Linked DNA regions of Homo sapiens: region 2 is linked to region 1. Evidence: fine-mapped expression QTL. Tissue or cell type: whole blood. Region 1 holds a variant in brackets; the other region holds the start of a gene. All regions are shown on one strand. Distances are between the middles of the regions.

Region 1 (2,756 bases):
TTGTCACACCTGCTGCGAAGTAATCACCTTAATGCCCATCAGCTGCTGCAGAGACCATGTGAGTCAGCCCCTATTTCATGGTTGAGAATGTGTCTCACTTCCAATGCTTCTCGCAGCATTAACTCTTTTATTTTTATTTCTTGTGACAGAGTCTCGCTCTGTCGCCCAGGCTGGAGTGCAGTGGTGCGATCTCGGCTCACTGCAACCTCCGTCTCCTGGGTTCAAGCGATTCTTGTGCCTCGGCCTTCCAAGTAGCTGAGACTACAGGTGCCCACCACCATGCCCAGCTAATTTTTGTATTTTTAGTAGAGACAAGGTTTCACCATGTTGGCCAGGCTGGTCTTGAACTCCTGGCCTCAAGTGATCTGCCCTCCTTGGCCTCCTTGGGATTACAGGTGTGAGCCACTGCACCCAGCCTGCATTGACTCTTTTAAGCATGAGTCCGGGGGGGACTGCCTGCCCCAGCCCCAAAGCTCTGGCACCCTCACATTTAGATTATTTCATGGGCTTCCTTTTTCTCAGCTGATTTAACTTGTCCTTTCCCCCAAGATCCACAGCCCCTGCCTGTTCTTCCTCTTTTCCTGCCACGACAGTGAGGAAGAAGAGGAGGGAGATTTCCCTACTCCCAGGGAATGGTGAGAACTCGGGAGATGTGGGATCAGAGGTCATCATCCTGGCTCTCTGACGTCCTTGGTCTGTGACCTTGGACACATGAGGGAGCACACAGAGTTGCTGTTTCCCGCGGGCACTGATATGCCACCCTGAGTGCTACGTCCCCTGCATGCATTCACCCCTTAATTTTAGCTTCTTGAGTCCTCGCAAGAACCCCAATAGAGTAAGTTCTATCTCTTTTATTTTATGAATGAGGAAATTGAGGTCGGAGAGGCAAAGTGACTTGTTCGAGGTCACCAGCTAGGATAAAGTAGTACCAGGATTTGAACCCAAGGTGTCTGTCTCGTGGGGGCAGAGCCCTTAACCTTAAGCTGTTCTGTTATCTTTATTCTCAATGCCAGGACCCCTTTTCTCTTTGCCTTACTCTTTTACAACGCAAGGACAAACCCCCGATTAGATGCCCCCAGTCCCACACTTGGTCTTGTCTTGTTCTGCAATGTTGAATTGTGTGTGGTGGAACTTGGACAGATTTTACTAAGTCAGGCTTTGGACTTTTCTGTACCATTGAAACTGACCCAATAGTCCCATCATAGATGTTCTTTTTTTTTTTTTTTTTTTTTGAGACAAGAGTCTCGATCTGCCACCCAGGCTGGAGTGCAGTGGGGCACGATCTGGACTCACTACAAGCTCCACCTCCCGGGTTCACGCCATTCTCCTGCCTCAGCCTCCCGAGTAGCTGGGACTACAGGCGCCCGCCACCACGCCTGGCTAACTTTTTTTTGTATTTTTTAGTAGAGACGGGGTTTCACCGTGTTAGCCAGGATGGTCTCGATCTCCTGACCTCGTGATCCTCCCGCCTTGGCCTCCCAAAGTGCTGGGATTACAGGCATGAGCCACTGCACCCGGCCCATAGATACTCTTTTGGATAAATACAGAAGTTGACCTTTCTGATCTTAAAGCTTGAAGCCCTCATTTGTCTTATCTGAGTTATTTCCTCAGGAAGGGACCCCCAGGCCTCTCAAAAAATATCAAAGAACTGAAACTCACCAGATTACCACATCC[A/G]GAGATGAGATACCAGACCCCTCATTCATCATGATTGCTTCCTTGCTCCTCCCGAGTTCCTGTTTTCTTCATGATTGCTTCCTTGCTCCTCCCGAGTTCCTGTTTTCTTATACATTGTTACATTTCTTCCCTGCTATGTAAACTCCTAGTTTTAGTTGGTCAGGGAGATGGATTTGAGACTGAGCTCCCATCTCCTTGGCTGCAGCACGCAATTAAAATCTTCCTTGGCAATACTCATCTTGTCAGTGATGGGCTTTCTATGCGGCGAGCAGCAGGACCTAGACCAAACCCCTGGTGTTTCAGTATCACCATTTCTCTGCACATAAACTGTTTATTTCAGAGACCAAAATGATGAGCTCCAATGCAGACAGTCAAAGTTTGTGAAGTCAGTCTGCTGGGAATGTGCTGTAGAAAAAGAACCCGGTTCCCGTAATAACTCTTAAGGCCCACAACAGTTGGCATTTACAGACCCCTTATTGTGGACCTAGGCTTGTGCTAAGCCCTTTACACACATGCTCACATAACCCACATCAAATGCTTACTAACAGAAAGATGCATCAGGAACCACCCCAACCCAGGACACCCACTTGCCCTGAATCAGGCCCAGGAGGTCAAGTTCACAGACCAGCCATAAGTGAGCTCCCAGCAGGCAGGTGTGAACTCTGAGTGTGCTCCTCACTCTGAATTTCCAGTGTGTGTTCCCTTGCTGACTTCCCTTTGCTTGACCCCTGGTTTCCAATGTGCAAAATGGCATTTAGAGATCTCTTTCTTGAGGCTTGGCAATTTTATCAACTTTACTGGAACAGGGCAGTAACACAAAACTGCCTCCGGAAAACAGGCAGCAAACATCTGGCAGATAATGCTTGAAACGCCTGTGTTTTCTCACTTCTTGACCCTATGTTCCACCCACCTCCTAGTACCTCCCACTGCTACCCCATCTCCCTACCCATCCTGCCCCCATCTTACTGCAGGCAAGAACTCTCAGAGGCTGTCAACAACCTCAGACTCATTTTCTCGCCTTCCTTCCAGCACTGAATCACATCATTAGTTTTTAATAATTCTTCTTGCAGCCCCTCTGGCTC
Region 2 (2,500 bases), 86 kb before region 1:
TCGAGACCAGCCTGGCCAACATGGTGAAACCACATCTCCATTAAAAATACAAAAAATTAGCTGGGCATGGTGGCACGCCTGTAGTCGCAGCTACTCAGGAGCTTGAACCCAGGAGGTGGAGGTTTCAGTGAGCCGAGACTATGCCACTGCACTCCAGCCTGGGTGACAGAGAGAAAAAAACAGTTGTACCAATTTATACTCCCACTAGCATTAGATAAAAGTTCAAATTATGCCAGGCATGGTGTCTCACATCTGTAACCCCAGCATTTTTGGACTCTGTCTCAAAAAAAAAATCCACATCTTTTACAACACATGATTGTTAGATTTTTTAGTTTTTGCCTATCGGATGATATATTCTTATTTACATTTTCATTTTCCTTATTACTAAGGGGGTTGAGCAGCTTCTCACATTAGGCCTTCCTCCTCTGCCCACATGACATGACTATTCATATTCTTTCCCTGTTTCCTACTGGGATATCATTTTCTTTTTTTCGTTTCTTTTCTTTTTTTGAGACGGAGTTTTCCTCTTGTTGCCCAGGCTGGAGTGCAATGGCATGATCTCGGATGACTGAAACCTCTGCCTCCCAGGTTCAAGCGATTCTCCTGCCTCAGCCTCCCGAGTAGCTGGAATTACAGGCCTGCGCCATCACAGCTGGCTAATTTTTGTATTTTCAGTAAAGATGGGGTTTCACCATGTTGGCCAGGCTAGTCTCAAACTCCTGGCCTCAAGTGATCCACCCACCTCGGCCTCCCAAAGTGCTGGGATTACAGGCATGAGCCATCGTGCCCAGGCACTGCCATGGTGTTTTTTGTTTGTTTGTTTGTTTGTTTTTAAAGATAAACCTCTGGGGTTTCTGGAAAGTAAAGCCCCATGCTCCAAACAGCTCTGCTATACCTGTGTGCAAAATATTTTCATCTCTCTCTCTCTCTCCCCAAAGTGCATGCAAACACATATGGAACTGACATAGGCATCCACTGTCGCACTTCAAATTAAACAGACGCACACGACAGATATTCTCACAGAAAAGCAGTCAGCCAAGCCCAGAACCCATAGATCTAGGTCCACACTCACGCCTCTGCATGCTCCCCAGAAAGACGGATGCATCGCCCGCAGGTAGAGACGGGCTCACCAATCCCACTCAAAACCCGCTGCCGGCTTACAGCTCGCAAGCCGCCCACAGTGCCAGCCCCATGCCAAGCATCACTAGGGGCTCTAGAATAGGCAGGGGCCTTGTTCTCACTTCCTTTGTGTTGCTTTTATTTTAGTTGTTTTGTTTGTTGTTTTTCTTAGAGTTATCACCTGCCCCTCTGTCTCCCTACCCAGCCCCCAAGCCTCCCCTCCAAGCCTCCACTGCGCATGTGCCGTGCATCCCTGCCCCTTCTGGGTACCCGTAGGCGCTCCCGGGCGCTGGCGGCGGCGGAGGAGAGGGAGCAGCGTCACGGGCGCCCGGCCCGTTAAAACGCTGCTGGCTGGAGCCACCTCCCTCCCTGCAGCCCGCAACGGGAATGGAGTAAAGGGAGACCCGTCGACCTGGCCACGGGGATCAGCGATGGAATTAAAGCAATCTTTGTCCACCCATCTGGAAGCCGAGAAGCCTCTGAGGCGCTATGGGGCGGTGGAGGAGACGGCTTGGAAAACGGAGAGACTGGGGAGAAGTGAGTACTGGGGCGGGGGGCGGGGGGCCGGGGACAGCTGGGGATCCATGCGCCTGCGCGGGTGGTCGCGGGAGCGCGAGGAACGCCAGCAGTGGACCCAGGGAAGCGCCCCCGCAGCGGGGCTGGCAGCTCAGGGGGATACGCAGCTCTGCGCAGCGACGCGCTCTCCCCGCGAACAAAAGGGGGGGACCCTCCGGGCTGAGCCTCACTGGGAGGGTTGGGAGATGGCCAGGCAGCTAAGGCAGGAGCCTGGGCTCGACTTAGGAGTCCCGGATCCGTCAGCTCGCAGCTGGTCCTGTGAAGTCGGGTCTCTCCCACAGCCCAGGGAGGAGGATCCTCTCTCCGCCTGGGATGCGCCAGGGCGCTGGAGACGCGGGACCGTCCTGGAAAGCGCCCACGTCCCTGGAGAGGGGGGAGTGTCTGCTGGTTTTCCGCTTGCTTTCCTACCCCCTGCGTGAGGTTTCGGAGCGCACCTGAAATTCCCAGCTTTTCCTCCCTCGCCTTCCTTGGGTCGGGGTGGGAGGCTTGGGGCGGCAAAAGGGTCAAAAGGCACACACCGTTCTCTTTTCTCTCTTGACTCAGTTAAAGTCTGCTTGGGCACAACTCTAGAAGGCAGTTTCGAAATAGACCGGCTGTATTTATTTACTGGTTCTCTCTGCGGTGTTTGGATGTCAACATTTCTAAGTAAACGAAGGATTTTGTTTTTCATTAATAGGATACAATAGTTGAAACTCCTGCCCTCAAAGTGTAGAGGCAGCGTCAGGGGCTCCAGGGTCACTGGAGGTCCCTGCAAACCCGGGGGCTCCCCAAAGCCGCTGCTCTCACATGGCTTGCCCACCAGGCT

Evidence for each region. PIP is the estimated chance that this variant, and not a neighbour inherited with it, causes the effect.
Region 2: it holds the start of BMERB1, and the variant in region 1 is fine-mapped to the expression of BMERB1 in whole blood (TOPMed, PIP 0.99).

Annotation. Positions count from the first base shown.
Region 1 is chr16:15,519,267-15,522,022 of GRCh38, forward strand. The region is part of intron 2 of MPV17L-BMERB1 (MPV17L-BMERB1 readthrough); the gene reads left to right. All of the region lies in intron 2 of BMERB1 (bMERB domain containing 1), which reads left to right. It overlaps LOC105371102 (a long non-coding RNA gene), which reads right to left and starts at 1,745. Exons shown (of 3, transcript XR_933129.3): 1 at 1,660-1,745. The variant A/G (reference allele first, on the strand shown) is at 1,675.
Region 2 is chr16:15,433,104-15,435,603 of GRCh38, forward strand. It overlaps BMERB1 (bMERB domain containing 1), which reads left to right and starts at 1,485. Exons shown (of 6, transcript NM_033201.3): 1 at 1,485-1,656. The coding sequence starts at 1,551. All of the region lies in intron 1 of MPV17L-BMERB1 (MPV17L-BMERB1 readthrough), which reads left to right. RefSeq lists an enhancer at 1,789-2,411.